Regions from separate parts of the Homo sapiens genome. Here region 2 is linked to region 1. The links come from fine-mapping of genetic effects on gene expression. A gene starts in region 1. The other region holds a variant in brackets. All regions are shown on one strand. Distances are from middle to middle. Region 1 holds the start of ABHD13 (abhydrolase domain containing 13). Region 2 holds the start of TNFSF13B (TNF superfamily member 13b).

Region 1 (16,689 bases):
GATTACACCACTTTAGCAACAAGAAACTTTTGAACAATATCTATTATACTGACATATTAAACTGAAGATATGAATACATAATCACACTGAAAGTTTTGATGAAAATGTATGAAAGAATCCCAAGAATTAGTTTTTCCAATGTAAAAAACTATTTGGAATATCGTAAAGGAGCAGTGAAGTCCTTTCAAAGTTTAATGTCACTCTTCAGACAGGTACAGACATAACACACTTCTAAAAGGAACATTCTTTATCATTCTGCACAAATTAAAATACAATGCAATAATCAAAAAGGGAAACATTATATAATTGTTACATTAGATGAAGTTTTTGCCATTTCTTCAGGAGAATGGCTCTTTACGACTTCTTTGATGAACTGTTCAAGTGCAGTGAAATAGCCTTGGCACTGCCATGTGTCATTGTGAGTCCCATCTGGAAAAATGGCTAATCTCTTAGTCCGAGATGGGGAGAGTTCATAAAGTTGTTTCATCATTACTGGTGGAATTAATTGATCTGAGAGTCCAGAGATGAAAAGTGAAGGCATTCTACACTGAGAGATTTTTCTGTAGGACAAAAATTTATTTTTGTAGCACCATAAAGGAAGGTAACGCATCGGAAAGAATGAAAATAAAGTGCTGGCCATATGTGGTATGCTTAAAAATGTGTTCTCCACCATAATGGCTGAAATCCTATGTGAATTTTCAGAAGCCAAATGAATAGCCACTGCTCCACCCAAGGAACGGCCAAAAAGAAAAATTTTTGTTTTATCAAGGTCAGGTCTAGTCATCACGTAGTCTAACACAGCTTCAGAATCTAAGTAGAGTCCTTCTTCACTTGCTTCTCCTTCACTTTTTCCATATCCTCGATAATCAACCAGCAAAAGGTTAACTTTGAGGTTAACCAACATAAGTAATGCATTTGGCAACCTGTGACCTATGTTGCCTGCATTCCCATGAAAATAAATTATAGTTGGGGAATAGGGTGAATTGTCTCCAGTGTATCGTATCAAAATAAGATTCAGACGTATTCCATCTTTGGTTCTGATGAAAATGTTTTCATGTGGAATGCCAGTGGGCATGGGAACATAAAGACGTGAAGAGGATGGCTGTTCTGGAAAATAAAGCAATACATCCTGGAATTTATACAGAATACCTGCTATTGATATGAATATTAACAAAAGTAAGATAATGCCTCCATACAGATGAAAAGTCACTATTAAAGGTAAAAGAGAAATACGGCAGAGAGCCCAAGACCATGAAGCCAAGGCTATTAGCCATCTTTCAACAAAGTTCCACAGCATCCAGGACTTTTCCATTGTAGCTCTCTGTAAGTATCCTAGAGAGAGAGAGGGAGAATATCAATAATTCAACGTCTATCTATTCTTTTAAAAATCCACAATATAATAAACTATGGTACTAGGCCACATGTAATTGTTAAATATGGTAATAGGTACAGTCCATCCACAAAAGTAGCTGCTATAATTTCCCTTGTCCTTTCTGTTCTCAACAGTTTCCTTTCTACCATATCCCTCCACTGTCATATTTAGGAAACACTAATATTCTTCAAATTAACTCATTTTTAACAAGTGCTTATTCTTCATATACGTGTTCTCACGGATTTGACCCAAAAAAAGTTGATGCGATAGTGTCATTTTTTTTTTTTAATGAGAAAACAGAAGCTCAGGGGCATAAGTAGACTGGCTATCATCTGCTTCTCAATGTAGAAGAGCTGGGAGGCAAACAAGCATGATTCTAGAGATTGTGGTACATCTGCTGTTAGGTTACGTATGTCCAGGGCAAACTGTACTGAAAAGGCAGTTCAGAAATTCCAACATAGCAAGACCAATCTAATATACTTTGTCAATTTTTTTCACATACGGTAGCAAAAACTAAAGAAACTAGGGTAAGGAGTTGGGCAAAACAAAATAAAACAAAAAAAAACAACTAGGGAAAGAAAGAATAAAAGTATCCCCCCTCTACCTCGAAGTTTTAATACTAAACTTAAATAATTTGCTTAAACACTAGATTCTAATATTGTATTAGTTTTAAGAAAATTATTAATGATTTATCTTTCATATGTAATTAAAAATAAATATCATATTGCTAGTGTCATGAGATCGGCAGTATCTTTTATATACTCTTTAATGAAGTTTCACGTCCTGGGGTCAATAGATTGCTAAAATGTATTGATAAGGCAATAAATACTTGAGGGTTCAGTGTGAAACAAATACACAGAAATCCTCTGAGAAACAGAGATAAATAAAGTAAAATGACTCACTGGAGAACAATTCTTAAAAAGATTACTAAAATATGTTAACTGATATAAAGAAAGTAAAAACTATTAAAAGAGAATTTTTTGTTATCAAAAGGTTTATACATGTTGTCTTAAAAAGGCAAAAGAATTGAGATATGTTACAAATTTTCTTATGTACTATTCGTCTACTTATGCTTATTTACTGAACTTTTAAAAATACTACATTTCCTTCTTTCCCACTGACCAAACTGCTATAAAGAGGTTATAGATTGATTATACAAATAATGAGTTGGATGATTTAACAAATTTGATTTTTTTCTATTATTTCACTAAACATAGACTTTTACATTTGAATTATTATTCAAATGAACTGAACCTTTTTGAGCATAAACCAACATTTTTCTGATTTCCCAGAAATCAACACTGCCACCCAGTGGTAGCAAGTTTTATTACAGTATCACATCCTCCCTGAATAACTATTTATCACTTATTTCCAGTCTCAATTGCCTTTTCAGTAGAATGAGTTTTTAAAATGCTTACCTATGAGGCTGGTCATTAGTATCAAGTAAGATTAATAATGAGATCATTCATAAATGTTACAGACATGTTAACTTTATTTGCTTTTGTGACTGGTATTTCTGGCTCTACTACTTTCTTACTGTGTTCTGCTCAAATTAGTTCTTACTTAAAAAATTATATAAAACCAGATAAAATAGCTCCAAATACACGAATAAGGCATATTTTAAAATTTGAATCTTATATTTACATTTATATCAATTTACATAGTTAAATTTTCAACTAATGAACTTTGAAAAGTTATTTTCGTTTTAGTAGCCTCTAACATCTAATTTTAGCAAATACTGAATTAAAATTTATAAGACTAGGAATTGTATATCTCTTTTTCACTATTGCATCTCTAATATCTAGTACAGCACTTTATATATACTTACGACTAAAACATTTTTAAAATAATCTAATTACATATACGAATTATTCAATTTATTTTAAAAAAAGTATTCTGAGCAGTGGGCATATATGTTTAAAACAACATCAGAAAAATGGGCGTATTTGTTTGGGTCTATTACTGGCTAGGAATAATAAGGGATAAACTTACCGTTTTCCACAAAACATTCCTGAAAAGTCACATTAACTAAACTGTTTTGTGATAAACAATCATAATCTCACAATCAGTTGTTGCACTATGGAAGTCGGAATAAAAGTCCATTCATCTTGAGTAATATCAAATGGAAGTCATTTTTAAGAACAGGTTAATAAAAATTGCTCTGGGGTGGCGGAGTGCGTGGGTATGGGTGTGTTTTCTCCTTAACATATTCTTATATTGCTGGTTTAGAGTAAGAACTCCACTCACGGATTGCCTTATTTTTACCTAACCCCACTTGCTAATAATCTCTGTTCCCTAGTCTGTATGATATATATTTCCATCTCAAAGGTGATCTTAAAGGAACCAGGACAAGTGAACAATATCAGGAAGGATTTTTAATTTACTGAATTTGCTGAAAGTATCAGCAAAGCATAATTACCATGCACCATCTGCTGAGATGTAAAAACAACTTCATACCCAGATGTTATGACAGTCAATAGAAACAAACACTGCCTCTAATAAAGTCGACTGCATGGATCCTACAGCCAGCATTATGTTTTCTATTGATTTTGTCAATAAATTAGTGTGAGTAAACGGTTAACAAAACCTTTCTCCCTCTTCAGATAAAAAATGACCTCTCCTTAACCTTCCTGCACTGTTTCCCTGGAAACCTGATAAAGGTGGGATATCAGCTGTGTTTCTAAGCAACAGTGTAGTAAAAATGGCTCCTACTGATGAGCTACATCTGGACTGAGAGGACAGTGAGCAGGGCTAAACATGCCCAGTGGGAAGTATAAACAGGGGCTTTTCTGAATTGAATACGACCTGTAATTGGCTTGTCATTTGCTTAGTCCTGGATGCTATACTCACATGCTGTCACAAAAAGACACTGTTTCCTGTGGAGCATGAAGCAGCTAAGCCAGGGTGGTGCTCACTCCCACCCTTGTGTCATTTTCCACTAGACCTGAGCTATCATCTGGAACAATATACCTAACACTGACATGTTGGGTTTTCAAAAAAGCAGAAAGGCTGATGCACAGTACGGTCCACTATGGTATACTGGGTCTTGTGAGTATCAATGTCCAATTGACCCCAAGACCACTGCTACTAGTCATGAAGAATGAGTGAAGCAATCAAGTATGTCCCATGTGGTAAAACACCTATAAAACGTGTCTTCAGAGGAGATGTATTATTTGTTGGGTTCTTCTGCATGTGAAATCCATTTGCTGATAACATCTTGGCATCATAAAAATCAGGAAAAAGGATGCATTTAATACACTCAAACTTATACCAACTAGAAGGGCTGCTGAGTAGGAGAGCCAATTAGACCTGTTCCATGTAGAATATAGAAATGTAGATAATCAATAACTTCTCATCTTCCAGTCTTCTTTTACATCATTATTGTATGTATTTTTAACCTTATGTCTACATCTTAAATGAATACCTGACAGTCCCATTTCTCAATTTTCTGTTTGCTATGTTATCAGATCTGGTATTACATGTCAGACATTTCTAAAACCCACCAATCTGTGGTTTTAACCACCGCCAGTAACTCCTTAACCATTTACTATCTGAGAACTTGCTGACTGACTTCTCATAATGATCTCTCATACAATGTAAACTTCACTTTAAAATAAATCTAGTGGATTTTTCTCAATCCACACTGCAACACCAGACCCCCAAAGTGTCATCTGCTATTGGCTTCTCCTCTACACTCAAATTGCTGTTTCTCTCTGCCCTATACCCCGAAAAGCAGGCATTTTCCAAGGTCTTCTCCACTCATTTAGGATACTATGTTCTTTCCCTCAGTGATTTCATTCCTTTTCATGGCTCCAATTATCACACCTGTGTATGAATTATTCCCAATCTACAAGTCTACTCTTCATCTACAATCTCAATTTACCTGTTCCTCACGTACCTGATGCTTCACTGATATTTCAAACTTATCCAAAACTAAACACATCCTGCTCCCTTCCCAACGTTTTGCAGACTTTATGCTAATTATACACAAAAAAAGCATGATGTGTAAACAAATACATTTTTTAAAAACCCAGGATATGTAGCTAAGATTTAAGTATTACAGTTTATTATAACCTGTACCAGTCTTGTATTTGAATGAAAAAAAAATCAACCTTAGAAACAACTTTTGTGCTTTCTAAATGAAGTGGTTTGAGGTGTCACATTGATATTAGTGAGTGTGTCTCAAAAAATAATCTACTGAAAGCATAACTAATCTTTATTATCATGTACTGTATAAATTAGATATGATTGTTTTCCTTTTACAAGAATGGTTTTGCAGTATTAGTGACATCCTGCTATACTACATAAGTAGTTTGATCATCTGATGCAATTTAATATATGGTGCTCATCTTGAGGATTTATGGTCCTAATTGGCTGGTTGTAGTCACCTCTAGTGCTCCCTACTTACTGTCTCTAAATTTAAGTCCATGACGGGTATACAATAAACAATTTGAGACTAAAAATAAGAGCCGTCTAGAACTGTAAAGCTCTCAGACCACCTTGCTGGCTAACAGTGTTAGCTGGATGGTAAGTCAGCTAAGGGCATGAGTGATGGCCATGCTTCTCTGATGTCTACTAATCATCTCCTGTGTTCATATAGGATCACGAATGGTTCCATTTTTAAGGAAAAATATTTCATTTAAATAACTATTTTATAAACTGATGCTTTAGAAAAAGAGATCAATATTGAAGTCATGCCCACTACGAATGGTATGAGTCCTCAGAATATCACTGCAGGCTCCCAGGGGAGCTGTGAAACCCAGCGTGGACCACTGAAGCAGGCCTACAGTTGATTTCCCAGCCTCTTCCGTAAGAGATGGTCATCAGATTCCAATGCATCCTAGTATACTATACAGTCCTTGCTCTCAAGTAGCTTGTGATCTACTCAGTAACGTTCAAGCAACTCTTGAGGTACTCGGGAGACAGATATGGATATAAATAACTACATACCTAACGTAAGTTCATTTAATTATAGAGCAGACAAAGAAAAATCAAAGAAAGATGACAATTGTCATTACATATAGCAAAGGAAAATCAAAACCTTAGCTGTATCTTTCCTTCACAACATAATTTTAGTAGTCTCTGGATTTCATCAAGGTTGATTACTTAGAGAAACCAAGTGGAAACTTATGCAATGTTTTAAAAGCAGGACAAAACATAACTCCAGGATTAAGAATCTCTATTACTTTCCATCAAACAGCTGTCTGTGACACTTATTTTTATTCATTTAGCACGATTATTCACAGAAACTGCAAGTATTCAGCATAATCTAAATAAATACTTGGCAAGGATAGCATAGAGGAATTTAGAGCTGTTAAACTGGATGAACTTTGAGGGCTCTATTAAATCTGAGATCTTTCTATGCCAGTGGTTCTCAAAAGGTGGTCAGAAACCTGAGGGTCCCCAAGACCCTCTAATGGGGTCCACAAGATCAGTATTATGCTCATAATAATACTAAAATATCATTTACTTTTTTCACTGTTTGACACTTGCACTAATGATGCATAAGCAATGATGGGTAAAATTGCTGGTGCCTTTGTAAGAATCAAGGTAGTGGCCTCACGTGTTGGAGTCACTGTATTCTTTATCACCATGAGCTCACGGTAAATGAGGGAATAATCCAGTTTTACTTAAGAATGTCAAAGAAGAAGCAGTAAAAATTATTTTATCTCAACTAACAAGTACACATCTTTTTAACACATTGTGTGACAAATGTGTGACAACACTGGAAGTGCACATAAAGCATTTTGTGCTATGTATTGAAATACATTTGAATTGTGAGCTGAACTAGCTGCTTTGTTCAGGTAACAACATTTTTATTTAAAAAGACAACTGACAAACTATGGTTGTTCAGACTTAGAGGTTTGGCAGATATTTACTAGAAAATGAATGAGGTTGCCAATAGCTCCTAGACACTTAAGGGACCTTTTTGATGGCACTGTGGTAATCTATTAATATTAAACATGTCACCATTTGGAAAAATCTGCATAACTCCATAAACCAATATATTCCAAATGACCAATGAATGGTGTCACAAAATCAAGCAAACGTGAGTAAAAAATTCACTACAAACCAACAGATTTTGATGTAACAAGAGACAACAATTTCTCTGATGTAGGTTTCAGATGGCACAATATAACTGACCTTTAAGGAAGTGCCTCCTGTTGGGTGATGGAGTCGTACCAACGAGTACCCACAATTCTCTACTACAATACTCTTCCCTTTACAACTACAAATTTGTGTGAGCCTGACTTTCTTCATGTTTCACTTTAAGAGCCTAATAATCTGCCTGTCTTCTATGAGGCAGACATTAAAGATAATTACAAAAATATAATCCCACACCTCTATTTTTTGTAATTACAATTGTTTTATATAAAATTTTATTTATGTGAGTATGTAATGAACTTACTACTGCTATTTTTAAATGAATTAAAACTTCCAGTTTTCCAATTTTAATTTATACACTTTATAAACTTCCAGTTTTCCAATTTTAATTTATACACTTTATAAACTTCCAGTTTTAATTTCTAACACAATAAATATCTATATAATCCACATACATACAAAAAAATCTTTGGGATCTTTACATTTCTAAAATGTAAACGGTCTGAGACCAAAAAGCTTGAGAACCACGGTTCCATACTATTTAACCATATAACTGTATTGCCTTATGCCCCAGAGACTTGCCTTCTTCAAATTAAGAAAGATATATTACATTTTTTTAAATCCTTTCTGCATTATAACATATATAAATATATTTAAGGTTTTTACCCAGTAATATTTTCTCCAAAAACTAAAAATAAATAAAAACTTATATATATCAAGAACTGAAACTCAAAAGTATAGGAGTAAATACATTGTAATTATTGCCGTAAGGTTAGTAGGAGAATAAATTAGACAAATCTATTGTATCATAGATAACATTTTACAATAAAAATTGTATTTTAATGAAGGTCAGAACTGCCCTACAAATTAAATTCTAGTTATTCTAATTATTTTTAATTAAAAAGTGTACATTGGGCCAGGCATGGTGGCTCATGCGTGTAATCCTAGCGCTTTAGGAAGCCAAGACAGGTGGATTGCCTGAGCTCAGGAGTTTGAGACTAGTCCGGGCAACATGGTAAAACACCGTCTCTACTAAAAATTACAAAAAATTAGCCGGGCATGGTGGCGCGTGCCTGTAATCCCAGCTACTAGGGAGACTGAGGCATGAGAATCACTTGAACCCAGGAGTCGAGGTTGCAGGGAGCTGAGATCGTGCCACTGCACTCCAACCTGGGTGACACAGTGAGACTATGTCTCAAAAAAAAAAAAAAGTGTACATTGTTTTGCATATTGTATATCGAGTTACGGATTCTGCCACCAGCAAATGGTCTTTTAAAAATACAAAAAAGTGCATTACCCATAGTGAATTACAATGAATTTCCGAAAAACAATTTGGCAAAAGGCTAAACAATTTCAAATACAATTAAAAAGTCCTAAGTCATAAAGGCACTATTATTTCTTTAAAGATCTTTAAGTCCATCCTAGATTGATAATTTTGGGAACAGCTTGTTTAAAAATAAAAACTGTTCATACATTTAAAAAAAATGTGCAGGTTCAAGTGAAGACTGTAAAAAGTGGAAAGGGAGTTCGTGTGTCAATGCCGACATCCACATCCCAGCAGAGAATGAGGACCCCACACCCCATGGGCTCATTAATTACTCTGGGTGAATCACAGCTTCCAATCACATGTGAAGTAATGTGGAACTCAGATTCAGTATTCTTATATCAATCTCTCTCCTCTTCTGTTAAGCATTGGGAAGTTAAGAAACCATGCCAGCTGCACAGCTGAAATGGAAACACAAATAGCTGCTATCAAGGTGTTGGAGACACCACAGAATGAATTATCTATTTCCCTAATGGTTACCCACATGCCATCAATAATGAAAAAGTGTGTATTAATAGTCCTATGGGACAAATGAACAGTAACTGCCTATGGAGATGCTGGATAATAACTGGATGGTTCAGACAGCATCTTTAACTAGGATTTAAATCTGTATGAGCAGATAGCTCAAAAATTATACCAGGCAGCTACTTAGTAGCTTTTTCATGCTTGAAAATCTTGGCAAATAGAGTCAACTCTGGCAGAAGTAAAATGAGAGATTATTGTTACTATGGAAGCCAACCACAATTTGTTCTGAGATTATAAATATCTGAAATGTTTAAAACAAATCCACTAGCCTAAAACTGTAGTGATGTTAGACTGATAATGAAATTCACAAAGTTTCCAATTTATAAATGGGCAATGTTCTAAAACTTTACCTATAAACTAGATGGATGAAACTTAGAATATTTGTTTTGTATAAAACCAGTGTTATATAACATTGAGTATGTGAAAGTAAGTACAACTAGAAGCCTTACTAGAAGTATCTAGATTCTCAGGCTAGCTCATAAATGCATGTAGTCCCTGTACTGGAAATACTACATCTTTGCAAGGGATTTCAGCAGAATATACTGTTGTAGGAGTTCACACCATGTGAAACAGAAACATAAAATATAATAATGTATTACAAAATCTGTCATTTGAGGAAAAATATCTTACTTAGAAGAACTAGAGCATCTTTTAAGTCCACACGAAAAAAGGCTATTTAAAGGTCTTAAGACTTTCCTGGGGCAACTAAACAAGGATTAGAAAGATTTCAGAATCTGGGTAATACATTAAACAGAGAAACAGAAATAGATTCCCCTGAGATAAGTTATGAGAAGAGATCATGGGAAAATGTTAGATCCAACAGTTTCCTGCACCTATCACTAAGTTATATTGTTAGCCCAGGGCAATTTGGTTAGTAAACCCTCTTATCCACATGCCAAGAGGTCTTTGATGTGCCCAAGAAGAGGGCAGTGTGCCAAGGGCTACCTGTAGGTACCTGGCTTGCTTTAATCATTCCAAGTTAACTGTCAGTGGGAGGCAGTGTGGTGCAATGGAAAGGAGACAGTGTTTTGAGTCATGGTCTGTTAAGAGATAGGTAGCTTTTGCCAACTCACTTAGCCTCTCTAAATATATATTTCCTCGTATGTAAAAGGAGGATGAAAGATTAAATTGAACTACTGTTGAGATAAAATGTAATAGTGTGTTAAGTGCAGCTACTTCTATGAGACAAAATTTAAATTACTTAATTATGTACTATAGCAGAGTATGTGAAAGTAAGGACAACTAGAAGCCCTATTAGTCCTAGATCAAATAATGGATATGATTCCCTAGAGGTACCGTATCTGAACACAGGAAGTAATCAGAGCAATGCACTCTTTCTCTGTTAAAACCAAACTCAGGTAGTAGATCCTCTAGAAAGCTTTCCTTGGACCCCTATTCCCTCCTGCCACCCATTCCACATTCTGTAGTTTGTGCAAACTTACGTGGCAGAAGTTACTATTACAGCGTAATTAACCTGCTTACACAGGCTGTGAGTTCCTCGATGACAGAGACCTCGTCCTATTCAACTCTACATTTTCTGTACGCAGCAGTGCCTGATGCATAGTGGGCCTCTATTAACGATTATTTAATTGAGCAGCTGATGTCTTAGGTAGGATATCATGACATTAACACTAAATCGGCAATCAAGAAATCTTACACAGTAAAATAAAATTTGATATTTTAGTCAAAGACGAGTGATTTCCCTAAGCATGCATACAAATAAGTATTGATCCACGAACCCCCTCCCGTCAAAAGAGATCAGTGAAAAATCCAATATCAACACACAAAGCCAATATACTCATCTCTTTCTATCCAGTTACTATCACATAGTAAACATAAATAAGAGTTGTTAAATGGGGACGGACTTTTTTTTGGTTTCGATACCTTGGGTAGTAATACTAGTAATTCATTTTACTTAAATGTTGACTAAAATCTACAGCAAAATTGACTTCGATTGTATGGGGTGCTTTTTTGATGTTTCCTGAATAACCCCAGAACTTCCTGTCATGATATTCACAGGTCTAAACCTGTTACTGTCGTGATTAGATCGGGGCTCTCCCTCTCTCCAACCTAGTAGCTGGAATTATTCTATTTTACTTTTCATGTCTGTGTGGGAGGGTGGGGGAGCGGAGGGTTGGATTTTAGGGATCTTAGGTTTGTACACATTACTGGAAATACAATTGACATAGAACACTAAGATACGTTTTAGGTTCCAATTACAAAACGACACCCGGCGAGCCTCTGGCAATGCGCGCACCTTAGTTTCCAAAACAGGTATTTGGCTTCAGTTTGCTTCCCCTGGTGAGTGGTGAGCGGAGTCGGGGCGGCCGGCAGGGCTGCACCCCGGGCTGGTCCTCCACAACCCCCGGCGCTCGGCCCCCGCACGACCCCCAGGGGAAGCCGCACTAGCCCCGGGGCTCCCCCCACAGCCTCCCGGGAGGGTTTCGCGCCCGCCTGGAGGAGCCGGCGGCTCCCCGCGACCCTCCTAGAAGGAGCGGACCGGCGCTCGGGCCCCGCGGGCTCGGGGTCCCCGAGCCGCACTTACTCAGACTCGCGGACAGGCTGCGCAGTCGGCCGCGGGCACGAAACCGGGCGCCGCGCAGCAGCGTACCCCCGCGTCGCTTCCGTCGCTCCTCATCATCCTCCTCCAGCCCAGGGGCCGCTGCCGGCGCCACGGTCTAGCCCGGAGCTCCTGCTGCGAGCTGTGGCCCCACTTCCGGCCCCCGCTCGGGTGTCGCCGGCAAATGCCCCCGCCGGCTCCCACATAACCTGTTCTCCGTCTCCGCTCCCGGAGTGGGAACCCTGCCCGCTCTTCCGAGCATGCGCAGAAGCCGCTGCCAGTGAGCCCCCGCGACGGTGGCCCGGACGGAAAAGATACCTCGGCGGCGTGGGCCCGGCTCCCTGCTCCAGGACCTAGGGATCTTGGCCTTCCACCCTCCTCCGAGCACCAGGACTCCCTCCAGTTCCGTACCCGAGGCCTCCGTGGTGAAGAGGTGCCGGACCCGATGAGCTCGGGAGTCCACCATCGCTCTGCAAGCCGCAGGTTTGCGGAGCAATTTGTTCTGCCTGATAGGGTTGTTAAGGGTGTCGCAATGAGGTCCACGATTTAAAGCGCTTCCATAACTATTTTTCTCCTTTTACCTCTACGAGAGTGGACTGTCAAGGGCGAATGCAGGTTTTGTGAGGCCTGAACCTTGTGCCATTTGGAGAGCCCTTTTAAAGAAAAATAATGTAAAATTGTCTTATTTTTGCAAATTTTACCGAGGTACACGACCATGGGAACACCTCGTTAGGGCCCCTCTCAAGGCCTTGGAAGTGTTCGCAAAAATGGGCCCTTAAAACTTGGGCTTCATTAGCTTCGCTGTCAACCCCCCTGTGCACTGAAGTGTACACACTTGTTTACAGATGTGTGCCTCCCCTCCCTTGGGCTTTCCTTATTCTATGTCCCCTATTTTATATATACAGAGGATATTTCATAAATCTGTGGGTTTTTTTTTTTTTCCTTTTGAGATGGAGCCTCGCTCTTGTCGCCCAGGCTGGAGTGCAATGGCGTGATCTCGGCTCACTGCAACCTCCGCCTCCCTGGTTCAAGCGATTCTCTCGCCTCAGCCTCTGACCTAGCTGGGATTACAGGTGCCCGCCACCACGCCCCGCTACTTTTTGTTTTTGTTTTGTTGCTGTTTTGAGACGGAGTTTCGCTCTTGTTTCCCAGGCTGGAGTGCAATGGCAAGATCTCGGCTCACCGCAACCTCCCGCCTCCCGGGTTCAAGCGATTCTCCTGCCTCAGCCTCCGGAGTAGCTGGGATTACAGGCATGCGCCACCACGCCCAGCTAATTTTGTATTTTTCTTCAGTAGAGACGGGATTTCACCATGTTGGCCAGGCTGCTCTCAAACTCCCCACCTCTGGTGATCCACCCACCTCGGCCTCCCAAAGTGCTGGGATTACAGGCGTGAGCCACCAGGCCCGGCCTAATTTTTGTATTTTTTAGTAGAGACGGGGGTTCACCATGTTGGCCAGGCTGGTGTCAAACTCCTGACCTCAAGTGATCCGCTCACCTCAGCCTCTTAAAGTGCTGGGATTACAGGCATTAGCCACTGGCCCGGCCTGTGGTGTTGTTGTTATTGAACATATGTGTCTTGCTACCAGATGGAGAGCTCCAGGTCAAAGCTGGGTTCTTGAATCATAGCTTCCTAATCTTGATCACGGAATAAGTGCCAAGCATATATAAAGTAGACCATTTACATAAATAAATTAATAATCATGGCAACTCTAGAAGATACTTAGTGAAAAAAACCCTTGATTGTCTTTGAACCAATCAACTAAAATAACATGATGAAATGGAGACTGGGCTTTGAATCAATTTGGAGTTTGCCTGGTTTCATAATTCATGGTTCTTCTCATGTAACTAATACAAAGTCCAGCTTCTGACATTGTAGGAGCTCAGTAGAGGTTGAACAAGCTACAAATGTACACGGATAGGTACCCTCTCCTAAGATGGGCAAGTGGAGGCTCCTCTACCTTAACACTATTCATTTTTCCTCCAAAATAAATTGATAACTAAATTGAAGAGCAGATACTCACAAAACAATATCATGAGACTTTACAACATCACAGATGATTTTAGATATTCAGGCATATTAGGTCAATTAGACATACGAAGTAAATAACTGAATGTTCTTGGGCTAGACGGAACCTCCGCTACAAACTAGCACTGAATGAAATGTGTCAGTTTTGAAAAAGGAGGTTTTTATACATTACACAACCTCTAAGGGCACTTAACAGCTCTAATATGTTTTATCAGGGCCCACTGCAGCAAAATTTATTTTATTGTAAAGCAATATTTTATGCTAAAATAAAATAGTTCTAAAAGTTGTTTCCACCCCTCTTTATGAATAACTTCTCACTTCTCCATGGCGAAAGAGGACTGACCACAGCAAAAATTCGGTGGAAACCAACAGCTCCTGGAACACAAAAACTGGGGTTGTTTATAATCTCTCCACCCTGAATATCTAGCACCATTACTATATAATAATAGGTGCTCAATAAAGGTTTGTTAAATAACTTTATTTTTAAACCTTAAACAGATACTAGAAGAGTCCATAGTTGATTTCTGGTCATGCAACGGTTTATTTCTATATTGTAAGTTATGTATTGTTATGTATTATTTCTGTATTAAGAGAACTGAGACCACAGTAGCAAACATCATTTAAAAAAAAAAACAGCTCTATATAGTTTGCAAAAGCCTATTTTTTAAAAGTTTAAATGAAACAACCAACGTTTTGAGTTGGGAGGATGTCCTGTTCTCTCTTGGGAGTTTTCACAACCAGCGAAATCAGTATAGTTACCACTGTTTTACGTACAGAGAACAAGAATTAGAGGCTATCACTAGCCAGAGCACAAAGTGATCTTAGGTCTCCCTCGAGACAAAATCCACTGGCGTGTGGATCAACTGCTTGCAGAGAGCATCTGCTGCCGAGGCCAATAGGAGCCGTGTGTACTCAAGACCCTAACCAGGATCCTGCAGGTCCCGCCTCCGCAGCCCCACGGGGCTGCCGGCCCCCCCACCTCCCATCGCGAGCCTGGCTGCGCCGGCGTGCTTGAGCCCGGTGACTGCAAGGCCCCGGGTCTCCCCTGCGCCTGCGCGGCGAGCAGCTGGCGGAACCGGCATCTTCTGGCGCCAGCTTCCGGCTTAGCGGCTGAGCTTCAGGCTTGACGTCAGGTGGGAAGGGTGTGGGGTGGCAGGTGGGGGCGGTTGGGAGGTTGGGGGGGGTTGGGGTGGGGGGGGTGGGGGGTGGCAGATTGACGGTGTGGGGGGAGTCAAGTGGAAGGTGTGGTCCAGCAGGCGGCGAGAAGTCTGTGGGGCAACAGACCGGGGGAAGGTCTGTGGGGCGTCAGGCGGGGTATCTGTGGGACGTCAGGTTGGGGTCTGTAGGGCGTCACGTTGGGGGTCTGTGGGGCGTCAGAGGGGGGAATCTGTGGGGCGGCAGGTGGGGGGTGTTCGGGGCGGGGTTTGGGGTGTGTGTGGCGGCAGGAGGCGGGGGAGGTCTGTGGGGCGTCAGGTTAGGGTCTGTGAGGTGTCAGGCGGGGTTTACGTGGGGTGGCAGGTGTGGGGTGTGTGGAGAGTCAAGTGGGGGGTGTGGGGCGTCAGATTGGGGGTCTGGGGGATCAGATGGGTGGTGTCTGGGACGTCAGGCGGGGGTCGGGGGGTCGTCAGGCGGGGGATGTGTGGGGAGTCAAGTAGGGGAAGTGGGGCGTCAGATTGGGGGTCTGGGGGATCCGGTCGTGGGGGTGTCTGGGACGTCAGGCGGGGGGCCTGAGGGGCGTCAGGTGGGGGGGTCTGGGAGGCGTCAGGCGGGGGTCGGTCTATGGGGGCAGCAAGCAGGGTGTTTGTGCAGCGGCAGGTGATGGGAGTTGCCGAGTCCACAGCGCTGTAGACTGCGCCGCATTAGAAGCCTGGCCTCCTGATGCTGTGCTCTTCATCTAGACCCAAGCCCCAGGTCGTGGGACGATTTCTCCCGTTTTTGACTCCCTGGAACTGTATTGCCTGCTTTACCTGCGTACATGTTGATTCTTTCTCATGGCAACCCCGCAGGAAACCATCAAGATCTCATTTTACAGCTGGGATTCTCTGGTTCACAGAGGTAACGGAGCTTGCCCGAGGCCAGGTATTCACTGGGAATCCGTGAAGGGTTGGGGGAGAGTAGGGGGAACGGGCAGAGGAATGATGTAGACTCCTTAGGGATTTTCCATTTTCCGAGAGGGTACAGGGGGCATTGGAGCGGGAGAGACTTTAGGCTTGGAGGGAATTACTTTATTTCTCTTCTTACACTTGGTCTTTCATTAACTTTTGGGATCCCAAAGCCCTTCTAGCGTCTTTGTCTGCTCATTTCTTTTTGCTGAGATTGTCCCAAATTGTCACTAAGTGCTGTGGAAGATAGGCAGCTGTAAACCCTTTGTTTCCTAGGGAAACACAGCTTGTCAAGGGTTGCATGAAGGATACTTCAGTTGCATTCGTCACTTACTCCTTTTTTTCCTCTCTCTTTTTTAAGTGCAATAGCATAGCACTTAATCACCTTCCATAGTCACTGAATAAAACCTGCCGGTTTATTTTCATGTGTCACTTCAGGACAATTTAGTCAGAACTGAATGAATGATGAATCGTTATTGTGTACTAATTGCTTGCATTCATTCTCCTGAAAGCTTTGCTTATTGTTAAAGAGTGAAGCTTCTTCCCACCTTTTTATCTCGTTAATATTTTGCAATATTTATATTTTAAATGTTGCTTGGATCAGCAAGCATTATAGTATTAAAATTATCAAGACTTACTACTTTTTAAAGCACATTTTGTAGATTATCTGATT
Region 2 (16,988 bases), 40 kb before region 1:
TCCGTGGAATGAGCAGAACATGAAGAAAGTCAGAAATCAGTAAAGGACGATTATAAGAAGACGATAAATGCATGGATCCCCTGGAAAAGCGTACCTTAAAGAGAAGCTTTAAAATCTGTGTGTGTGTCTGTGCGTGTGTGTGTGTGTGTGTGTAAAATAACCTTTTTAACAAATAAACAAAATTAAAGTACAACATACAGGGCCTTTCATTACAACCTTCACCTGGTTTCACAACATGTAATGTACATTCAGAAAACAGATGTCTTTAACTTTCTATGACCCAGGTAGTAAGCAAAGTCTAATTCTAACATGTAATGCTTTTTTTTATTTTTCTGGAGTGATGAATAATGCTTCTCACATGGGAGGGCATTATCTACCTGAGGAAACACATATGGCCCTTTTATCTCCTCTATGCTTAATGCACAGATAAATACTTACACACGCACAGAGAAATGCTTCCAGTCACACGATCTGCTCATTGGAGGAAAAAGCACACCCATGCAGCCTGTTACATTTGCCAGCGCTGGGGCTTTGCTCTAAAGCAATGTCTGCTTTGGATGGCAAATTTCATAGTCTCTATTTAATAGGTTCATAGAGGGGATACTCACCTCCAGCTCCCCCAGACTGGATGTTATTCTCTAATCCCTGACTCCTAAAAGTGTCTGTGCCCAAAACATACCTGTTTCTTCTGGACCCTGAACGGCACGCTTATTTCTGCTGTTCTGACTGGAGTTGCCTTCTCCTGGAGCTGGTGGTTCAAAGATCTATGAACAGAAAAACTTCAAGTTATTAGAAAGACAGCTGAGGCGAGGGAGAGGCAGCAGTGTAGGCAGGATCTTGCCTGCGTCTTGCAGCTGCTGCAAACTCACTTTCAGTCCCGCGGTGACAGCTGGAGCTTCCTCCAGGCCGGCCTTGGGGGCTCCTGCTCCTGCTGGCAGCTTCTCCGCGTGGTGGCCCTGCAGCTCTGCCCGGAGGCTGGCCAGGTCCCCTTGCAGGGCGGCCACCTGGTAGAAAGACACCACCGTGAGGCAGCAAGACAGCAGTGCCAGCAGCAAGGTTGCAGCCAGCAGCTTTCCGTCTTTGGAGGATCGGACAGAGGGGCTTTCCTTCCGTGGGAGGATGGAAACACACTCCTTCAGTTTCATTTCTTCTCTTTTCTTAAGGCAAGAAGTAAGGCGTGACTGCTCCCTTTCTGTGGAGTCATCCATATCACTACTTGAACTTTGAAGGTTGGGGCCTTTAGAATAAGTGACCACAGGGAATGGATCATTTCCTGTTATCTGTGTTTGTTGATGTCCTGCGTGCACTACATGGCAGGGCTTGGCTCACCCCTCAGGAGAGTTATCCTGAATTTTCTCCTTTCTGCCTTTCTGCATCTCTACCCCTACTGTACAGTAGGTTTGCTGGCATTTACCCTCCGATTGGATTGCTCAATCTGTCTTCCTCATTTCACTTTCAGTTTTTGTAAGAATTTCAAAGTCTTCTCATAACACTCATGCTCAAGTAGATTTAAAACCCCTTAAATCTGCTGAGGAAACTTGGAGTTTGGATTGGCACAGTCAAGGGAAAGCTTTTAAGATATGCTCAGGTCTGAGAAGCCCACCCTTAAGTGTAGCAAGGGAACTCTGTCTGCTTGGGACCACATGGCTTCATAAGGAAGGGGGAAAAGCAGCTGAAAGTTCCTGCTGCTGTCATAAAAATAATTAATGTGAAGGTCAGATAAGCTAAGTGTTTTAGCATTGAATTGTTCTTAGCTAGAGAGTGATTTATTAACAGTCTTCAATTATGAAATAAAATGGAGAATCCTTGAAGGAAGTGTGGAAGTAAGTCCACTGGGAATTATTCATATTATTATACTAATAATGTCATAAAAAGAATGAGAGTAAATGTTACAGACGTATTTAGGTTAGATATCTGAAGGATTCTCTAAATATAAGTGAATATATTTTTAAGGAAAACATGCATAAACTTTTTCCTTCTGGGACTCATCACTGAAACTCAATCATGCATATGAACAGCCTGTCCCAAGGAGCCTGGTCTCAGCTTTTCTGCTCAGACTTCTGAGGCTTTAAGTCCCCGCTCAATATGATACTAGTTGAGGAGAATCAGCCTTGCCTCCAGCTCCAAATGCCTGACTGCTACCATTAACCACTCTCAAGTAGCTTGTCTACAACTCCCATGTTGACTGTGCCACAGCCTAACAGGTCGGTGTACAAGAGGTCCTTGATCACACAAGAGCCACCTTAGCTTTGGATTTTTCTGTTGTTGACTTGGTGGACCTGTGAGGACTGTTGCATTCATTCTAGTCCTGCCTTATCCTGATGGCTGGTTCCTGGACATTCCCCAGTTTTTCACTGCTTTGCCCCAGCATTGAAATATTGATTCATCTTTCAACAAACGTTACTGAGCACTTACCAAGCCCTGGGTAGTCACTACTCCCCTGTGGACTAAGAATAGTGAGCTTTAGTTCTGTCTCACTCTACATTTCCACACAGTCTTAAGTAAGAAGTTTACAGAAATGATATAGTGCAAAGTGGAGAACTCCAGACCCAGGCTTCTAGACTGCAAATCCTGCCTCACCCTCGCTCTCCTTATGCAAAGTACATAATCTCTCTGTGATTCCATTTCCTCACCTGTGAATTCGTATGACGATATTAACTGTCCCTGGGATACATAATGAGGCTTACAAGAATGTGGAAACAAATTACATTTTGGATGCTTCCATTTAAAAAAAAATTATTTCCACAGGTTTTTGGGGAATAGGTGGTATTTGATTACATGGTTAAGTTATTTAGTGGTGATTTGTGAGATTTTGGTGCACCCATCACCCGAGCAGTGTACACATTGAACCCATTTTTTAGTCTTTTATTCCTCACCCCCCTCCCACCCTTTCCCCTGAGTCCCTAAAGTCCATTAGATCATTCCTATGTCTTTGCATCTTTGTAATTTAGCTCCCACTGTGAGTTAGAACATACAATGTTTGGTTTTCCATTCCTGAGTTACTTCACTTAGAATAATTGTCTCCAATCCCATCCAGGCTGATGCGAACATCATTAATTCATTCCTTTTTATGGGTGAGTAGTATTCCATCATATATATGTATCATAGTTTCTTTATCCACTCATTGATTGACGGGCATTTGGGCTGGTTCTATATTTTTGCAGTTGTGAATTGTGCTGCCATAAACATGTGTGTGCAAGTATGTTTTTCGTATAACAACTTCTTTTCCTCTGGGTAGATACCCAGTAGTGGGATTGCTGGATCAAATGGTAGTTCTACTTTTAGTTCTTTAAGGAATCTCCACACTGTTTTCCATGGTGGTTGTACTAAATGATCAGGGAAATGTAAATCAAAAGCACGGTGCAATGCTTCCATTTTTTCATTCACTTTTATTCTTTACATTCAAAGTATGAATGAAACATTTTTCAGTTACAAACAGTGCTCTAATAGATATTTTCTACAACTGTGCTTGTAACGTCTGCAAGGGTTTCCCAGCAAATGCCTGCTGAGGGAGAAGCACATCTTCACTTTTACAGGCACCACCCAGTTACCCTCTGACGAGTTCCCATTTCCTCATTGTCTTACTACAAAATGACGCAGTCAGACTTACTTGTTTTTACCATTAGGATTGTTTTTTGTTTTTTGTTTTTTTCCCTTTGCATCTGCAAGTTTCCAAGACCTTTTAAAAATAACTTGTTATTATCCTGGCCCCCAAAATAAGCTGCTCTCTAATTTTTCTTACCTATAACTCCCACAATAAGGTGACCGTGCCCCAGTCTAACAGGTACGTAGACAAGAGGTCCTCCATCAACCTTCTCAGGTGGAAGTCTTCTTTTAGAAGGATGTTTGTAAACCCTTTTGCATCAGGAATGACAGTCCAATTCTTTTCTGTCAGTTCTTGTTCCAGAACAATTAGGGTGAGTCATACGGAGTAACCTTGCCATAAAAAATGGAATTCGTATGGGAATTGTATGAAGGCCTTCTTACTGAAAGTCATTGAGATCCTTTAGATGATGTGTTTGTGTATTCTTATGATTTAAATACATGCAGAAATGAAAGGATGCAACGCAGTGCTAGAAAGCAATTTCTCTCTGCGTTTCACTCAGGGTTTCCTGTAGCCACTGCTTCTCTCCATCCATGGACATTCTCCCTCTTCTGGTGAGTCGTTCCCCTCTATATCCCTCAGAGAAAATTCTGAAGACAGGGAATGATTTGACTGCTTTAGGGAATTCCCTCTGCCTTCGTCACTGTGTTGGGCAGAGACTTTCATGCCTGAACATCTCAAAAGAGAGTCACTGGCCAGCCTGCACGCAGCCATTTTTAAACCAGTGCCGATGTTTGTTGCGGCAGTGAGCCGTGCCATGCATAAAATGGGCAAGTTCTTCTTCCACAAAGGGCAGCCATCATGTCCCTCTGGCTAGAGGGACAGCAAGCAGGGATGGCAATGTGCACATCCTCCACAGGGATCTGACAGCTGCATTTTCTCTAAAGACAGGTAGAAAACGAAGTGACATTCATGACTCTTGAATCTCTTATTAGATGAACAAAAGGAAGTCATTACTCCATAAATCAAGAATCTGTTTCCGGAAGAGGAAATGGTTTGGCAATAATTTAACAGAAATTCTGTTAAACAAGAAGCATGTTCACGTTCATTGAATAATACACCACATCACAAGTTTATTCAGGGACAAAAGGCCACTGTATCTGAGCCACAGATTGTGCAGCGATCTTATTATACATTCAGTGTTTATTGACAGTATTTAGCTGCTTTTTACACACATCTTTTTCTCAATGTAAGTGTAAAGCATTCTTCTGTCATTCAATAAACAAACTGAGATACTAGGACTTTGTGACTGACGAAACTGTTCTATCCACTCAGAAATAGGCAGATAGGATTCAAAAGAATATAACTTGTGAGTTTGTCCGGGAGTCAGAAACAGCAGAAAATAAACATTCACTCTCTGACTATGTTCTTACATTGACAACCTCAAAAATATTTTTAAAAATGAATTATAAATTTCTGGCTAAATAGTGCTATAAAGAATTACAGGTTTGAGGAATCTCTCCTTTGCCCTTTTTCTTTGAGGAAAAGCGTGTTTTCCTCAAAATCCTTTGAGGAAAAGGATTTAGACCAGTCAAGCATGGCGACAACAGCTCTTCTAGATCTGTGAATGTACTCGATCTGTAAATGTACCTAAAATTACATCTAGATAAAATTGGTATCCTAAAGCACTCAGAATATGGAAGATTTATGATATAGGTTAAGTATTGCATTTCAGGAAAATATGCTGTTTTCCAGTAGAAATATTATATATATATAAAATATTTATATATTATATATTTTATATATATATTATATATAATGGAGAGAGAGAGAGTATGTGTGTTAAGTTATTATATAGTTAAATTTGATTTGAAAGGCTAAATGTTAATCACTGTATATAATTTTTAATTTAAAAAATTTTTAATTGACACATATATATTTATGAGATACAGTGTCATGTTTTGATATATGTATACAATGTGTAATGATCAAATTAGGAAAATTAGCATATCCATCACCTTAGACATTTATCATTTCTATCTGGTGAGAACTTTGAAAATCCTGTCTTCTAGCTCTATTGAAATATATAATATATTATTGTTAACTATAGCCGCCCTACTGTACAATGGAACACTGGAAATCGTTCTTCCTATCTAACCCTGACTTTGTACCAGGTGACAAACCTCCACCCCAATACCTCCGGTAACCACTCTCCTACTCTCTACTTCAATAAAATCAACTTTGTAAGATTGCATATATAAGTGAGATTACACAGTATTTGTCTCTCTGTGCCTAGCTTATTTCACTTAATATAATGTCGTCCAGGCTCATCCAGGTGGCTACAAATGACAGGATTTTACTTTTTATGGCTGAATAGTAGGCCACTGTATTATACCACATTTTTAAAATTCATTCATCTATTGATGGGCACTTAGGTTGAGTCCATATTTTGGCTATTGTGAATAGTGCTGAATCAACATGATTCATTGATTGGATGAATGAATCCATTTCTTGGATCCATTTCTTGGATACATTGATTGCTTTCTTTTGGATATAGACCTAGTGATAGAATTGCTTAAGTATGGTAGTTCTGTTTTCAGTTTTTTGAGGAACCTCCATACTGTTTTCCATAGTGGCTGTACTCATTGACATTCTCACTAACAGTGCACCAGCGTTCCCTTTCTCCACATTCTCACCAGCTAGAGGTCACTAATGCTAAATGAAATAAGCCAAGCATAAAAAGACAAATATCACATGTTCTCATTCATATGTGGGAGCTAAAAAGGTAGGTCTTATGAATATAGAGAGTAGATAGGTGGTTACCAGAGGCCAGGAAGAGTAGGAAGAAGGGTGGAGGGATGAAGAGAGGTTGATTTATGTTAGAAAAAATAAAACCTAATGCTTGATAGATTAGTAGGGCAACTAGAGTTAGCATTAATCTGTTCTACATTTCAAAATAGCTAGAAGAGAATCATTTTAATGTTCCCACAAAACAAAAGGATAAATATTGAAGGTGATTAACTTCCCAGTTACTCTGAATTGTTCTTTTCATATTATATGATGTATCAAATTATCACATATACTCTGAAAATATGTGCATCTGTTTTGTATCAATAAAACAAATAAATTAAAATTAAATGGACTGCAAATATTTTAATGATTTATTTGAAATTTCGCTTATTGAATGTTGAGAAGAGGATGGGTTTAGGAGTGTAGGCTCTGAAGCCAGAAGCATCTGTATGCCCAATTCTGCTTCGCCATCTTAACAGAATCTTTCTTGCCCCAAATCTAGACGCTGACTTTGTTTAGATATCTATCTCTGTGGGATGCCGACATAATCTCACACTTTAGGGAAGTCCTAATCATGAAATCTACTCACGATGACTCCATCTACATCACCACTGATTGCTAAGGAGGGACAAATGAGAGAGGCTTTTTACAGTTGGTTGTGAGGTGGTCTCCTGGGGGCACTGCTAAGAAAGAGTTCCTCATTCTTAAAGAGATTGACAAGAAAGAGATGCTCTTCTTCCACTAGACATTACAAGCCTGTCTGTGATCACCGAGAACTGCCATCCTGCAACTGCCGTCAGGCCCAGACTGAAACAGTGACGGCAAGAACAGGATTCTGGAGGGAACCTGGCTCTGTAAGGACATAATTGTCCTGCTGGATTACTCAACTCTTCATGCTTGTTATTTGGATCATACTATTTCCTAACTGTTTACGCCAATGTGAGACAAGATTAGGTGTTAATTCATCCAAAGACATCCTAAATCTGCTAGTTAGATTAGCAGTTGATTAGGATCCAAAGACATACTAATTCTGCTAGTTGTAAGAATTGTATTCTTACAACCAAAGAACTTTGTATAAGAGAGTTTTAAATGTTCTTTCAGAAATTTTCCAAATGTCCACTTTTTGAAACTACGGTGTAAAGAGAAAAGGTCAACACCCACAAGCTAGAAAAACTAATTCATTTGTTAAGAAGAGTCTTGACCGGGCGCGGTGGCTCATGCCTGTAATCCCAGCACTTTGGGAGACCGAGGCGGGTGGATCACGAGGTCAGGAGATCGAGACCACGGTGAACCCCGTCTCTACTAAAAATACAAAAAATTAGCCAGGCGCGGTGGCGGGCGCCTGTAGTCCCAGCTACTTGGGAGGCTGAGGCAGGAGAATGGCGTGAACCCGGGAGGTGGAGCTTGCAGTGAGCCGAGATTGTGCCACTGCACTGCAGCCTGGGCGACAGAGCAAGACTCCATCTCAAAAAAAAAAAAAAAAAGAGTCTTACATCCAGTTTTAATATAGCTATTTTTTAATAATTTAAGCTCTTTAATATGTTAGGAATCTTAAGAAAAATTATTATTATGTGAAGATGTGTTTAATGAATCTGTCTTTTCTATGTGGAACCAAAAAAACGTAGTCAACTCTTTCAGAAAAAAAAATGCAAAATTAGAATTTGTGCATCTCCGTGTAAGAAGGGAATAATTTCAAACTAAGAAAAAGTAAGAGAGATATAGT[G/A]TATTCTGAGAAAACTGCAACATGAATGCATCTTTCTTCTCCTTTACTAACAACTGTAAATTATCTTTCTTCTCTGAGCCAAATTGCAGTAGAACTTAGAGGTAATTGGGTGTTAGCGAGGGGCTTTTTGCTCTAATTGGCCCTAGATAGAGAAAAATAATGTTTGAGGTTTATTTCTCGAGAGTATTTGCAGTACTATATGTGAGACCCAAGTCTCAATGGGTCTTAGATAGAATGGTTGAGCAGAAATCTGTGGGCCCCAGGCAGTGGCTAACATCAGCCTCACAGGAATATGCCAAGTTTCCCGGGCCTCTGAGTACCCACAAAGGGAGTAAGTGCTTGGGGTTAGTCCTCCCTGCCCCTAAAGCTGAGAGACTATCAGGGGATCACAAGAAACAAAAGCCTCCCCCAAATGCCTCAGAGTAGACTAGAAGTTTCCCTGTTAGTCCAATCCTGGCTCATAGGGTTAGACAGGACTTGATTTCCCACCTCCTGAGGCTAGACTGCCCCAGCTGAGCCATCAAATCAAACACAGGAGGTGTTGAAGAGAGAAAGCTTGAAATTGGGATATCGGGAGAGATGCAAGAAGTGGCTGGACGTATAAATAGTGGCTAGACTGCAGTGTTTTTGCATGCACAGCTGTGGTTGTGTGAAATGTGAAAATGAAGCCATTTATATATATATTTTAAAAAGATTATGGCAGAGGGTAGGGTGGAAGTAGGGAAGATATGTACAGAAAGAAATGATAAACTAAGAGTGTTCAGCTCCATGAGTGCAGAAATGTGTGGTTTCTAGCCTATTGTATCTCTAGTGCCTGGAACACTTGTCCTTCATGGATTCTGCTATTCTCTGTTAAATGCTGACTAAATAAACGTCTTCCAATGAAAATTAAAAAAAAGAGAGAGAGAGGGAGAGATAAACCATCAAAGAAGGAGAGCACAGAACATCCCAGCATACACACAACACAAAGGGATGGAGACAACTTGAATTTTAAAAACTAATAGAGGACTTAAGATTCAACTGAAGAAACTTTTTAGGAACTAAAAAATATCTCTATAGTTTTCAATTAAATAATTTAATACATGCATTGAAGAAAAGGATGGTCACTTTTGAGCACTGAGTTACTGGCCTGCAGGCTCAAATAGAAGTAAAATCTCAAAACTCAAGAGTGTTTTGCAACTCACATGCAAGAAAAATGGGAACATAAAAGGAGGGAGAGGATATAGACTAAATAGAGGCAATGACATAAAAACTTACAGGAGAAAAGAATAATGCTTCTTAATCTATGAAAGAGCTGAAACTACAGTTTGAATTAGCTTATCAAGTCCTAGGTTAAAATGCTGAGAAAATCTGTATGGGTAGCTTTTTGGAAAAGAAAAATAAGCAAGTAGGTCGGGCGCGGTGGCTCACGCCTGTAATCCCAGCACTTTGGGAGGCCGAGTTGGGCGGATCACGAGGTCAGGAGATCGAGACCATCCTGGCTAACATGGTGAAACCCCGTCTCTATTTAAAAAAATACAAAAAATTAGCCGGGCGTGGTGGCGGGCGCCTGTAGTCCCAGCTACTCAGGAGGCTGAGGCAGGAGAATGGTGTGAACGCGGGAGGCGGAGCTTGCAGTGAACAGAGATCGCGCCGCTGCACTCCAGCCTGGGCTACAGAGGGAGACTCCGAGAAAGAAAAGAAAGAAAGGAAGGGAGGACGGGAGGAAGGAAGGAAAGGATGCTGAGAAAAATCGACCCAGGTAAGGTCTGATGGTATTACTGAATATAGAAAGAGTTGTTGGGATATGATGAAAATAAAGTATATAAAATCTTGTAAAATGCATTTAAAGCTATTTTTATGAGAAAAATCATATCTTTGATGGCATGTTTTAAAAAGAAGAATGGAAAGAAATAATCTGAGCATACAGGTCACAAAGCCCTAACAAGTTAAAAGGTGAAAACAAATTAAGCTTAAAGATTGGAGTAAAAAATATAAAAGAGATTAATGAAATAAATAATAACTTTACAATAAAGAGAATTAAAAATTGGTTATTTGACATAACAAATAAAATTAATAATTTGTAGTAAGACACAGTACAAAGGAGAAAGTATGAAATTTCAATAACAGAAATTTTAAAAGCGGGACATTTTAGAGCTATTACAGATCCTAAACAGGTAAGAGGATATTATGAATAAATTTGTGTGTAAAATTAAGGGGAAATTGGAGTATACATGCATTTCTCTTGAATACAAAAAAAAAATGAAATAACAAAGTAGCTAAACCAATTGCAAAGGAAGGATATTCACCATCCACTCTTTCAGTATTGTTCTAGGTACTAGGCATACAAAAATTAAAACAGAGAGAAAAAAAGTCAGAAAGAAAAAAGAAAACTCCTGTGTCATGGAGTTAAATTCTATTGTATAAGATCATTTTAAATGATTTCAATTTTTACTTGATAAATTTATACAAAACAGTTTCTCATCTGATTTTCCATTTCTTTTGTATCTGTGGTTAAGCATTTTTTTTAAAAATTGTCTGCATACAATTTCTCCTTTTATTCTTGAAAGAATAGCAAAAACTTGTCTGTTTTGTTAGTGTCAAATAAGTAATCAGCAGATAGTTCTGTTTATTATCATTATGAATTGTCTCATTCTACTTGTTTGTTTTGTTGTTTTCTTTAGTCTGACTTCTTCAGTTGAGTGTTCAAACATTCATTTCTTTTCTTATTTGTTGATAGGCTATTAAATTTCCCAAGAGCATTGCTTAGTAAAATTCAATGATATCAGGTATGTATTGTGTTTTATTATTATTGTGTTTTTTATATATTGTGCTTATTATTTTCTAGAAACGATTAATAATATAAATTAATCTAAAAATTTTGTTTGGCTTTCCAATTTGACTTAAAAGTTATTTAAGAGATATTTGTTAATTTGTTTTAATTTCCAGAAATTTTCTTCATTTTTCTCACTAACTTCTATTTTATCGTATTGCATTCAGATAATTTTCTCTCACAATTTCTACTTATAAAGCTTAATCAGAGTTTCTTTAGGGATTAATAGTATTGTCATTTGTGTGAATGTAACATAGCTACTTGAAAAGAAGGGATATCCTTAATAATTTTATTATTTTAGTCTACAATATCTGCATTTTTGTTTATATGATGTCATAGAATAATAGAGATGAGTAAAATTTCCCATATCTAATGTTTTTTCCTGTGTATTTCCAGGTGTTTTTCTTGTGGTTTCAGCTTTATGGTTATTGATGCTATATTATTTAACATTATAACACTTAGTGCAAAGATATTAAAAAATGAGAGGGAGATAATAAATTATGTCTATCAAAAAGATAACTTTTTCCCCAAATGCACAAGTGATACTTAAAATTTTAATCAAAATGGACAACTTTAAAAAGTAGTCTTTTACAGGCTACCATGACGGATAGTTTGCAAAGACTGGAAGAACTACTCTCTGGTGGCATGCCTGTTTGCAATGTGACTGATAATAAGGTTGGTCTGTCTCCTTATCCCCTAAATCTGAACTGACCTTGTGAATTGCTTGCTTTGACCAGTAGAACACACAGGACTGCCTCCCTGAGACCCGCATGCAAGAAAGTCAGTCTAGCTTACTGGAGGATGAGAAGATACATTGAAAACCACTAAAGTGCCTGAACCACCTGCCAGCACTTACTGCCAAATGTGTGGGTGAGGCTATCTTGAACCCCCAGCCAGCCTGGCTGTCAGAGGCATGCGGCCACACACATGAACTCAGGTGGAGCTGGCACAAGAGCCACCTGAAAAACTCACAGAATTACAAAAATAATAAAGGGGAGCTGTTACAGGGCACTAAAGTAGGGTGGTTTATTACTTAGTAATACCTAAGTGATATATCCCATTCATTGATTATAATCTCATAAAAATAGAAATCATTACAAAAAGGTGATCAAAGAGTTGCTTACTTGAAAATGTAAAAATACATTCATAGGTCAAGTTTGTGTCAAAGAAGTATGCGAAACTGAGGTTAGAAATTACCTAGAAAATCACAAAAGGGAAAACAACTTATACCAAACATATGAGCCAGAGCAGTACTCACTAAAAAATTATAGCATTGAAAACAAAGCTATAATATAAACACAATGATGTCCAAAAGAATTAATTCTCATCCAAAAGAATTTAAAAAGGAATAAGCCAAAATAATCCAGGTAATGAAATTAAATAAAGATAGCTAACACTGATGATTAATTATATATTGTTAGTTAAAACGTGAGCAAAAGTCATTCTTTATATATACATATACATATACAAAAGTCATTCTTTATATATACATTCTTATATATACATTCTTTATATATACATTCTTTATATATACATATATATGTATATATACATATATACATATATACGTATACGTATACATATACATATACATATACATATACATATACATATATATGTATACATATATACATATATACATATACATATACATATACATATATACATATACATATATACATATACATATACAAAAGTCATTCTTTATATATACATATGTCTATATAAAGAATGACTTTTGCTCACGTTTTAACTAACAATATATAATTAATCATCAGTGTTAGCTATCTTTATTTAATTTCATTACCTGGATTGTTTTGGCTTATCCCTTTTTAAATTCTTTTGGATGAGAATTAATTCTTTTGGACATCATTGTGTTTATATTATAGCTTTGTCTTCAATGCTATAATTTTTTAGTGGTTTCAGCTTTATGGTATGTGTATATATACACATATATATGTGTATACGTATACACATATATATATGTGTATATATACACATTATATATAATGTGTATATATACACATATATATGTATATATATACACATATATGTGTATGTGTGTGTTTGTGTGTGTGTATATATATATATATATATATACACTTCAAGTTCTGGTTTATATGTGCAGAGCGTGCAGTTTTGTTACATAGGTATACACGTGCCATGGTGGTTTGTTTGAAAATGTAAAATAATAAGGTTGTTTTGGAAGCCAATCTAATGATACTAGAAATATTAAAAACATATCTACACTTCAACTCAACAGTCTCACTACTGAGAATTTATCCACGGTATCCATGGTGAAAAAAAAACAATAGAAAAAGTGTGTGTGTGTGTGTGTGTGTGTGTGTGTACACATGATGTTAAGTAAAATTAAATTCTATTTTGTTTAATGATCTATCAGGGATCAAAGATTTCCCTTGTGTTTTTCTGCTACTCAAATATAAAGACTCTTGTCCTCAAATTGTTTGATTACCATGACTGATTGCTAAAACAGAAATATAATTTTATATGAAAACTCATAAAATCTGTTTTAGATACTTTCAGACAGTCATAAAACATGTCTAGTAGTGGAGACAGTATGAGTTCATAATTGTACTTGTCGTTGGTTACTTCTAAATTTACTAAATTTAAAATGCACTTGCTAATTTTTTGTCTATTTTAAATATAAGCCTCTGGTTATTAAAAAGTAAACAAAAACTGGTGGGTGATTCCCAGAATTTTAACCAAAAGCATAATCTGTTATCTCATGGCAACAGCTGTTTACATACTTTAAATTGAATAATGAGCTTTCAACAATTTCAAAATTTAAACACAATCCAGACCAATGTTGATATTTCCACACTCAGGACAAGTGGCGCAGTGTAAAATTCATGTGAAAATCTTATCACTATCAACCACCAACACTAGCAACAATTAACCAAGGATAACAAGTCAAATCAAATAAGTATAAACTGTACTCTACTAGTGACTACTGAAAATTCAGCATTTCAGAATACTAATCTTCAATCCTTTATCAAAAGCATTTTTTTGACTTTAAAAAATGTGGTAAAATACACATATATTATACAATTTACCATCTTCATTATTTTAAAAGTCACTCTGCAATTTCTCTTTAATATCAATGACTTGTGAATTTATAATTCTCACTGTGTCCCAAACAAGGGAACCTATTACATTTTGTAAACTTCTGCAGGTCATGAATTTTGCACCTCAAAGAGGATCTGTGTGTTGTTGAAGGCTTAAGAGGACAGCAGTGTGTGACACAGAATCCCGGACTAGCACTCAGAAAAAAATGTGTTCTGGTTCAGTTGTTCAACTACATTTAGTCATTTGACTCTTTGGTTTTATCTCTGTATTCTTTGTGAAAAGATGTAATCTTTTCTTTTTTTTTAACTTTATTATTATTATACTTTAAGTTTTAGCATATATGTGCACAATGTGCAGCTTTGTTACATATGTATACATGTGCCATGTTGGTGTGCTGCACCCATTAACTCGTCATTTAGCATTACGTATATCTCCTAATGCTATCCCTCCCCCATCCCCCAACCCCACAACAGTCCCTGGAGCGTGATGTTGCCCTTCCTGTGTCCATGTGTTCTCATTGTTCAATTCCCACCTATGAGTGAGAATATGCGGTGTTTGGTTTTTTGTTCTTGCGATAGTTTACTGAGAATGACGATTTCCAATTTCATCCATGTCCCTACAAAGGACATGAACTCATCATTTTTTATAGCTGCATAGTATTCCATGGTGTATATGTGCCACATTTTCTTAATCCAGTCTATCATTGTTGGACATTTGGGTTGGTTCCAAGTCTTTGCTATTGTGAGTAGTGCCACAATAAACATATGTGTGCATGTGTCTTTATAGCAGCATGATTTATAATCCTTTGGGTATATACCCAGTAATGGGATGGCTGGGTCAAATGGTATTTCTAGTTCTAGATCCCTGAGGAATCGCCACACTGACTTCCACAATGGTTGAACTAGTTTACAGTCCCACCAACAGTGTAAAAGTGTTCCTATTTCTCCACATCCTCTCCAGCACCTGTTGTCTCCTGACTTTTTAATGATTGCCATTCTAACTGGTGTGAGATGGTATCTCATTGTGGTTTTGATTTGCATTTCTCTGATGGCCAGTGATGATGAGCATTTTTTCATGTGTTTTTAATTTCCTTAAGCTGATAAGCAACTTCAGCAAAGTCTCAGGATACAAAATCAATGTACAAAAATCACAAGCATTCTTATACACCAATAACAGACAAACAGAGAGCCAAATCATGAGTGAACTCCCATTCACAATTGCTTCAAAGAGAATAAAATACCTAGGAATCCAACTTAAAAGGGATGTGAAGGACCTCTTCAAGGAGAACTACAAACCACTGCTCAATGAAATAAAAGAGGATACAAAGAAATGGAAGAACATTCCATGCTCATGGGTAGGAAGAATCAATATCGTGAAAATGGCCATACTGCCCAAGATAATTTATAGATTCAATGCCATCCCCATCAAGCTACCAATGACTTTCTTCACAGAATTGGAAAAAAACTACTTTAAAGTTCATACGGAACCAAAAAAGAGCTCGCATCGCCAAGTCAATCCTAAGCCAAAACAACAAAGCCGGAGGCATCACGCTACTGACTTCAAACTATACTACAAGGCTACAGTAACCAAAACAGCATGGTACTGGTACCAAAACAGAGATATAGATCAATGGAACAGAACAAAGCCCTCAGAAATAACACCGCATATCTACAACCATCTGATCTTTGACAAACCTGACAAAAACAAGCAATGGGGAAAGGATTCCCTATTTAATAAATGGTGCTGGGAAAACTGGCTAGCCATATGTAGAAAGCTGAAACTGGATCCCTTCCTTACACCTTATACAAAAATTAATTCAAGATGGATTAAAGACTTACATTTTAGATCTAAAACCATAAAAACCCTAGAAGAAAACCTAGGCATTACCATTCAGGACACAGGCATGGGCAAGGACTTCACGTCTAAAACACAAAAGCAATGGCAACAAAAGCCAAAATGGACAAATGGGATCTAATTAAGCTAAAGAGCTTCTGCACAGCAAAAGAAACTACCATCAGAGTGAACAGGCAACCTACAAAATGGGAGAAAATTTTCACAACCTACTCATCTGACAAAGGGCTAACATCCAGAATCTACAATGAACTCAAACAAATTTACAAGAAAAAAACAAACAACCCCATCAAAAAGTGGGCAAAGGATATGAACAGACACTTCCCAAAAGAAGACATTTATGCAGCCAAAAAACACATGAAAAAATGCTCATCATCACTGGCCATCAGAGAAATGCAAATCAAAACCACAATGAGATACCATCTCACACCAGTTAGAATGGTGATCATTAAAAAGTCAGGAAACAACAGGTGCTGGAAAGGATGTGGAGAAATAGGAACACTTACACTGTTGGTGGGACTGTAAACTAGTTCAACCATTGTGGAAGTCAGTGTGGCGATTCCTCAGGGATCTAGAACTAGAAATATCATTTGACCCAGCCATCCCAGTACTGGGTATATACCCAAAGGACTATAAATCATGCTGCTATAAAGACACATGCACACATATGTTCATTGCGGCACTATTCACAATAGCAAAGACTTGGAACCAACCCAAATGTCCAACAATGATAGACTGGATTAAGAAAATGTGGCACATATACACCATGGAATACTATGCAGCCATAAAAAATGATGAGTTCATGTCCTTTGTAGGGACATGGATGAAGCTGGAAACCATCACTCTCAGCAAACTATCGCAAGGACAAAAAAACCAAACACCACATGTTCTCACTCATGGGTGGGAGTTGAACAATGAGAACACATGGACGCAGGAAGGGCAACATCACCCTCCAGGGACTGTTGTGGGGTTGGGGGATGGGGGAGGGATAGCATTAGGAGATATACGTAATGCTAAATGACGAGTTAATGGGTGCAGCACACCAACATGGCACATGTATACATATGTAACAAAGCTGCACATTGTGCACATGTACCCTAAAACTTAAAGTATAATAAAATAAAAAAATAAAAAAAAACAAAATCAGAGCTGAAGGAAATTAAGATGTGAAAAAAAAATAC

The links.
Region 2: its variant is fine-mapped to the expression of ABHD13 in whole blood (INTERVAL, PIP 0.93).

What each region holds. Positions count from the first base shown.
Region 1 is chr13:108,213,842-108,230,530 of GRCh38, reverse strand. It overlaps ABHD13 (abhydrolase domain containing 13), which reads right to left and starts at 12,139. Exons shown (of 2, transcript NM_032859.3): 1 at 11,872-12,139; 2 at 1-1,332. The coding sequence starts at 1,312. The coding sequence ends at 299. It overlaps LIG4 (DNA ligase 4), which reads left to right and starts at 14,995. Exons shown (of 3, transcript NM_206937.2): 1 at 14,995-15,047; 2 at 15,921-15,993. RefSeq lists silencers at 11,617-11,856, 14,793-14,932 and enhancers at 12,137-12,466, 14,776-15,070.
Region 2 is chr13:108,254,116-108,271,103 of GRCh38, reverse strand. It overlaps TNFSF13B (TNF superfamily member 13b), which reads right to left and starts at 1,386. Exons shown (of 6, transcript NM_006573.5): 1 at 870-1,386; 2 at 680-764. The coding sequence starts at 1,208. RefSeq lists a silencer at 481-560 and enhancers at 461-969, 921-1,350. The variant G/A (reference allele first, on the strand shown) is at 8,058.